2 linked regions of the Homo sapiens genome follow. The protein of the gene in region 2 purifies or fractionates together with the protein of the main gene of each other region. This does not show direct contact. Each region holds a gene or a part of one and is shown on either strand. Other genes may lie near its edges.

Region 1 (2,526 bases), on a different chromosome or scaffold from region 2:
TTAACATTTATTAATCCTCCCCCGCCAACCCCGATTTTTTTGAAGAGAGAAAGCAAATGTATCTAACTGAAGTTTAATGCTGTTTTGTTTTTATATTACTTTTTACTTTTAGCTTCTACTTAATAAAAAAATCCAGCTTGTATTGATGGGAGGGATATAAAAAAATTGCGACAGTGCTCAGCAAATGACTGGTGTTTGGGACCCGTGGCCTCTAGATTTAGCGGAGTTTCGATCTGTGATCTGGGCTCCATGCCTGAGACAGAAAGTCATGCCCTCAGTCAGCCCGACTTGAGACCGATGTGAAGCGACTGGAGGGGGCCCTCTGGGACATTTGCAAATGACCACGCCCCTGCTGTACTGCAAACGACGACTGGGCAAGGAGGAGCTGACCACAGGAGGCTCGGACTGGGAGCCAGAAGATTCCCCCGGGGAAGCTTCAGAAAGCAGGAAGAGCAGCTGGTTTGGGCAGTCCCAAATGCCTGCTCTAGCTCTGAGTATCGTTACCTAATCCCTGTGAGAGAGTGGGGAGCGGCTGTGCAAGTTCCGAGTGCAGGTATGCTACCTGTTAGGATTTTATTTTTTTATTTTTATTTTTTTTTGAGACGTAGTCTCGCTCTGTCGCCAGGCTGGAGTGAGTGGCGCCATCTCGGCCAACTGCAACCTCCGCCTCCCGGATTCAAGCGATTCACCTGTTAGGAATTTTAACATTCAGCGCCCAAGCGCAGAGCAGAGGAGGCTGGAGGGGCGCAACACCGCCATCTCGCGGCGACGGGGTGCACAGCGCTTGCGAGGACCCAGACTGGGATCCATCTGTCCCAGAGACTCATTTTCAGCATCAAAGTGCGTCCCTGCGCTGTCCGTAAAGAGCCTGCCATGCGGCAGGTACCGCGCAGGACTCCAGACCTGCCTTATCTTTTGAGATCCCCACAGCCCCTGAAGGAAGGGACCACTAATATCAACATTCACAGGACGAAATCGGAGGTGTCCTTGTGTTCACAGCTGGGCAGCCCACCCAGCTCAAGGGGGGACTTGGGGAACGCTGTCTAGCCTGCGAGAGGTGGAAGTGGGCTCCTGAGAAGGGCGGCCGCGTGTGGCTTCACCGTCCCCTTTTGGGTTTAAAGGGAACTTCCCCGGATGGATTAGGTGTCACGGCAGCAGTGTGAGAATGGAAGCGCCCAAGCCCGTCCCCTCGGCCAGCCCCTTCAGCTCTCTGGGCCTCAGTGTCGTCACCCGTCAAACGGGGACAGGGACCCTCCTTCCCAGTGCAGGGTGGGGTCCGAGTGAGCTAGGGCAAGCCAGCGTTCAGTGCAGGGCAACTGGGGTCTGAGTCCTTGGGGAGCTGGGCTTGGAGAAAGTGAGATCTCGTGGGCTCTGGGAGGGAGGGCCTGTGCTCTGTTCCCACACAGCACCCCCAGCGGCAGGGCTCCTTGGGGAGGCCAGACCAGGGCCAGGCGTGGCCAGAAAGACCCTGCCTTTAAGGGGCTGTGGAACCCTGGGCAAGGAGTGTACCCAAGTAACCAGCGTGGCCCCAGGCCAGGGGTCCCCTCTGCAAGTGTCACATTGGAGGGGGCCCTGATGATCTTGCAGACCCTGCAGCCACCTCGGGCCAGAAGCGAAGCAGGGTCCCTGCCCTCAGAGAGCGTCTAGTCTAGTGGAGATACACACATGAAACTGCCTTGTTTAGAAGCTACCAGGAAGGAGAGGCCCCAGTGAGAAGACGGCAAATAAAGGGGGACTGTGACCTAGTCAAGCCACCAGGGAAATCTTCCTGAGGAGAGGACGATGGATGAACTTTGGAGGCAGAGTGGGCATTGCCTGGGAGGCAGGGAGGGGAGAGCGTTTCAAGAAGAGGGAGGAGCATGTGCCACGCAGGAAGGAGGGAGGACAGGGAGTCCCAGACTGAGGGAGGACAGTGCCAGGAGGGCCTGGAAAAGCAGAGGGGAGGGTCAGGCCACAGCAGGCTTGAGAGGCCACGGAGGGGGCTGTGTGTGACAGGGAGGGTGACGGGGATGGTGGGAGGTAGGAAAGGAGAGGAGAGATGGAACCTGATTTGCATTTCACAATGACAACTCTGCCTGCTGGGGTGGAGAAGGATCTGGAAGAGTCTGGCGTAGGCAGGTGGGCAGAGCACCTGCGAGGTTAGTTAATGCACATAATCAGGAAGGAGACTTTGTAACCTGGGCCAGGGAAATGAAGAGAACAAGGCCAGTGGTCTGTCCAGGGGCCCGGGGACGGGTGGGAGGTGGGGGTGAGGGGAGCCCCAGGGATGGCACCCAGGCTTCTGTGTTACACAGTTGGAGGTGGCCTCGCCAGGAAGGAACAGCTGGAGGAGGCCAGGTTTTGGAGGGAGGGCATCTGCATTCAGCCTTGGCCGTGCTGAGCCTGAGCTGCTGCTGAGCTATGCAGGGGAAACACACAGGTATGGGGTGTCTGTGTCACCAGTGAGGGGACTGTGCAAGTGACTGTCCTAACTGAACACTTCAGAGTGAAAAGAAGCTCTGTTAACAATGATGCCACACCAGGGCC
Region 2 (4,422 bases):
AATACAAAAAAATTAACTGGGCGTGGTGGTGCACCCCTGTATTCCCAGCTACTCAGGAGGCTGAGGCAGGAGAATGGCTTGAACCTGCGAGGCGGAGCTTGCAGTGAGCCAAGATTTCGCCACTGCACTCCAGCCTGGGCAACAGAGACTCCATCTCAAAAAAAAGAAAAGAAAAGAAAAAGCTTTATTTCTTTTAAAATAGATAACAAAAAAAAAAAAAAAACCACCAAACACTTTATTTCTTTTAAAATAGATGGCAAAAAAAGAAAAAAAGCTTTATTTCTTTTAAAATAGATGGAATAAATATGGGGAAATGTTAATATGCTAAATACGGGGTTTGGGTATATTAGAAATGTGTTAACATTCCTTATGTTTGAAAGTGTCCAAATTACTTTAAGCTGATAAGGAAAAAGTAAATAGAACAGTTAGATGAATCAAGTTAAAGCAAATCAAGTAAAGCATGAAATTTGGCCGGGTGTGGTGGCTCACACCTGTAATTTCAGCACTTTGGGAAGCCGAGGTGGGCGAATGACTTGAGGAAGGAGTTCAAGACCAGCCTGGCCAACATGGTGAAACCCTGTCTCTACCAAAAATACAAAAGTTAGCTTGATGTGGTGACAGGTGCCTGTAGTCCCAGTTACTCAAGAGGCTGAGACAGGAGAATTGCTTGAACTCAGCAGGTGGAGGCTGCAGTGAGCCGAGACCATGCCACTGCACTCCAGCCTCCAGCCCGGACGACAGAGTGAGACTCTATCTTAAAAAAAAAAAAAAAGAAGAAGAAGAAATTTAACTACAGTCTTATCCTATTCCTCAATAGTTTCTTTTGTGACTTTAATTCCACATAAAAAGATAAGAATTATAATGCTGGTAACTAAATCAAACTTCTAGGCTTACTAGCTTTGGCGGGGAGAGGTCAGAGAATGCATGATTCATAAAATATATGGCTATATTATCTATTGATTTTTTTTTTTTTGAAATGAAGTTTTTCTCTTGTTGCCCAGGCTGGAGTGCAATCGCACGATCTCAGCTCACTGCAATCTCCGCCTCCTGGGTTCAAGCAATTCTGTCTCAGCCTCCCAAGTAGCTGGGATTACAGGCGCACACCACCATGCCCGGCTAATTTTTGTATTTTTAGTAGAGATGGGGTTTCATCATATTTGTCAGGCTGGTCTCAAACTCCTGACTTCAGGTGATTCTCCCGCCTAGGCCTCCCAAAGTGCTGGGATTACAGGCCTGAGCCATTGCGCCCATCTATTAAATTTTAAATTACTTTTTTCCCCTTTTTGATTCTTCTGTTATTCCAATCATAGATAATGCATATATTATGACATATACACATATTTTGAAATTTTCTGCTTTAGGATTATCTGTCTGCTTTTCTCCCAGCAGCTACTGGCTTTCAGAATAAGAAATGACTTAGTTCTGATTCTTCCACAGAACAGTACTGGGCATCAAAGCTAGTACTATCTTTGACCTTTACTGAAATTCAATAAGATCTAGAATGAAATACAGACCAAATTATGCAAAGATGAATGGTTACTAGACCCAATATTGATTCATCTGGAAAATTTACAGATGCTTCTAGAAAGTAAATCTGTTGATCTGGGTTTCAAAGGTTTGAGTCTATACCTTCAACATGCAAAGCTTATGACTCACGGCTTAGAGGAATGGTTATTCAGAGTTCTTGGGATAAGGGATGGCTGTGTGTGTGTATATATACATATATTTATAAACATAAATATAGACCTTTTTCAGATCAATATTTTCAAAGGGATAAAAGAATGAACTAGCCTCAGAAGACAAAAAAAAGCTGCAGAAGAGAAAAAAACGAATATTGCAATATACGAATATCTAGGAAATGCAGAGCACTTCGTCGGAGCTCAATAAATTCTAGCTGAATTGACTTTGAGAGCCGTTTTAGTTCTATACCTCACTGCTCAAACCGCAGGCATCACCATGCAACTTATCGGTTTACAGCTGTGCTGTGGGTACCATCTGAAAATCTGGAAATGATTAGCTTATGCAAAACAGCCATAACCCCCAGAAACCAGGCGCTCTCCACCACTTTACCATTTAAGTCTTACACCGCTCTTGCGACTGTAAGCGAACTGACAAACATCTACTGACCAAATGGGACCTAGATTTTAAACAAAGACTGAAATCTGGAAGGCTACAAGTAAACAGAAGCTGAAACTAGCTCACCTATTCTGTTGGCCAAGGATTTCGTGGAATCTGCTAAACTTCTCTTCCCAAAAGATGATACCTATCCCCTGGGAGGTGATAATTTAATCACCTCGGTGGCTGAGTGGGTGGGGCCGAGTCAGAGAATTCTTTCAAGAAATCGCTAAACGTTTGACTTGAAGATCGATGAGAAGCCAGCCAAAAAGCTATCAAGCCAAGGACCCCAAACCCCCTAACTCCCTTACATACATATTTCCTTCCCAATCTCTAGGCTGAAGTTTATGTGGAAGCCAAAAACTACCAGCGCTAGAATCCACAGCGTGCCAGGCACAGCTCACTCACGGCTTTCACGCAATTCTAGCTACAACACCCAAACCGCAAAGTCCCTGTTGCAGGGGTAAATAAGCCGGCGAAACCCATTCACAGGAAGGCTCCCGCGTCTCGTCCCAAGCTCTTTTCTCCCGAGTTCCCAAGAGTATAAACCCAAGAAAAGGAAATAAGGCGTCCGGGTCTTTCCTCTCCCGGAGCCGATAGGCGGCTGCCCAGAAGTTCCATGGGCCACACACATTCCGAACTTGGAAGACTAGGGTCCCCTACATTGATGCCCCAGCTGCTACTTACCGGCACATTGTTGACACCTTGTCCCTTGGAAGCTATCATGAGAATTTCTCTGAAGTCCATGTTGGGCCGAGGCGGGAGAGACTGGGCCAGGCACTCGGAAAGGACTGACAGCGCACCTAACCGAGGCGCCCAGCTACAGCCAACTGCACTGCCTCGGGAGCCCCACTCCCACCCCGCCTCTGCGGGACCACTTCCGGCGCCTTCCTATGCCGTCTGCCCGCCCCCTTCCCTCCACGGCCTATATCCTTTCAGGGCCGCCACAGCGCTCGCGAGTCCCTGCGTAACTTCCGCTTTTAGGCCGAGACACGTACAAACGTGATACGTGGCTGCTGGCGTCGACCCGAGGGGCAGGGACTAGGCATTTTAGCAACCAAGGGGGTGTGGCTAAGCGAGAGAGCGGCTTCCCTGGTGGCCCGGGCGCGCGGTCTTGTCATCTTGTTGCTCCTTGTGAGCGCTGGGTAGAGAAAGTGAGGGGGTAGAGGGTTTACTTGCCAGGCCTGGGTTCTCTGGGTGTCACGGGTAGGCGCTTAGATCCAAAACGGCGGCGCCACAACAGCTGAACAGACGGATCTCGAGCCGGGGTTTGGGCTACTTGTGTCTAGGCGCTCGCGAAGCTGCGCAGGCGCACACAGCAGCGCCGTGGTCCTGTCTTGGATGCCCATTACTCATCAAATTCGGCCACATGCCGTGCGCTTACCTCCTACTCAGATGCACGCGTGCCGGGGATGGGGGCACGCGCTTACTTCTTTTGCCCCGTTTAGAAAGTAAGTTTTATGTGGAGCAGCCAACCTGTGTTTTTGCTCAGGCAATGGATTAAGGAATTTCACATACAGACCCAGCCTTGACATAACTTTGGTGTACTGATGAACATATGCTTCATATTCATATTCATTGGGATCCTAGTCCTGACTTCTTTTGGAGAGTTATCTTGGATCTGTAAGGTCATTTCGACTTAGCAAAAACACTGAAAATAATTAGGCAAACCTGGGTCTGCAAGTGGGAACCCGCCAGGGGATTGATAGCAAACAGGTACTCGGGATCTTTTCGGTGGGATGGAAATGCCTCCAAACTGGATTGTGGGGATGGTTGCACTATACATGTACTAAAAATCGTACACTTAAGACGGGTGAGAATGATACAGTATGTAAATATGTCAAGCTGTTAAAACATGCTAGACAGGCCGAGCGCGGTGGCTCACGCCTGTAATCCCAGCACTTTGGGAGGCCGAGGCGGGCGGATCACGAGGTCAGGAGATCGAGACCATCCCGGCTAAAACGGTGAAACCCCGTCTCTACTAAAAATACAAAAAATTAGCCGGGCGTAGTGGCGGGCGCCTGTAGTCCCAGCTACTTGGGAGGCTGAGGCAGGAGAATGGCGTGAACCCGGGAGGCGGAGCTTGCAGTGAGCCGAGATCCCGCCACTGCACTCCAGCCTGGGCGACAGAGCGAGACTCCGTCTCAAAAAAAAAAAACAAAAAACATGCTAGACAAAGCTGCTGGCTCTTACTCTTTGATGGTTTAATGCTGCGAACGTAATTCAAAATCAAAGCTGTTGGAACTTTAAGTTATTTTGCGCCTTAAAAGAATGTTATTATGGAACCTGAGCTACATAACAGGCAGC

The links.
Region 1: the proteins of SPTY2D1 (region 2) and MLYCD purify together in Homo sapiens (affinity purification with mass spectrometry; one large-scale study listed by BioGRID and IntAct). This does not show direct contact.

Annotation. Positions count from the first base shown.
Region 1 is NC_000016.10:83,925,071-83,927,596, reverse strand, and holds the end of MLYCD (malonyl-CoA decarboxylase, mitochondrial), read right to left. Parts: 3' UTR 566-2,526; downstream 1-565. UniProt on the Homo sapiens protein: Catalyzes the conversion of malonyl-CoA to acetyl-CoA.
Region 2 is NC_000011.10:18,631,396-18,635,817, forward strand, and holds the start of SPTY2D1 (protein SPT2 homolog), read right to left. Parts: upstream 2,948-4,422; 5' UTR 2,863-2,947; coding exon 2,803-2,862; intron 1-2,802. UniProt on the Homo sapiens protein: Histone chaperone that stabilizes pre-existing histone tetramers and regulates replication-independent histone exchange on chromatin.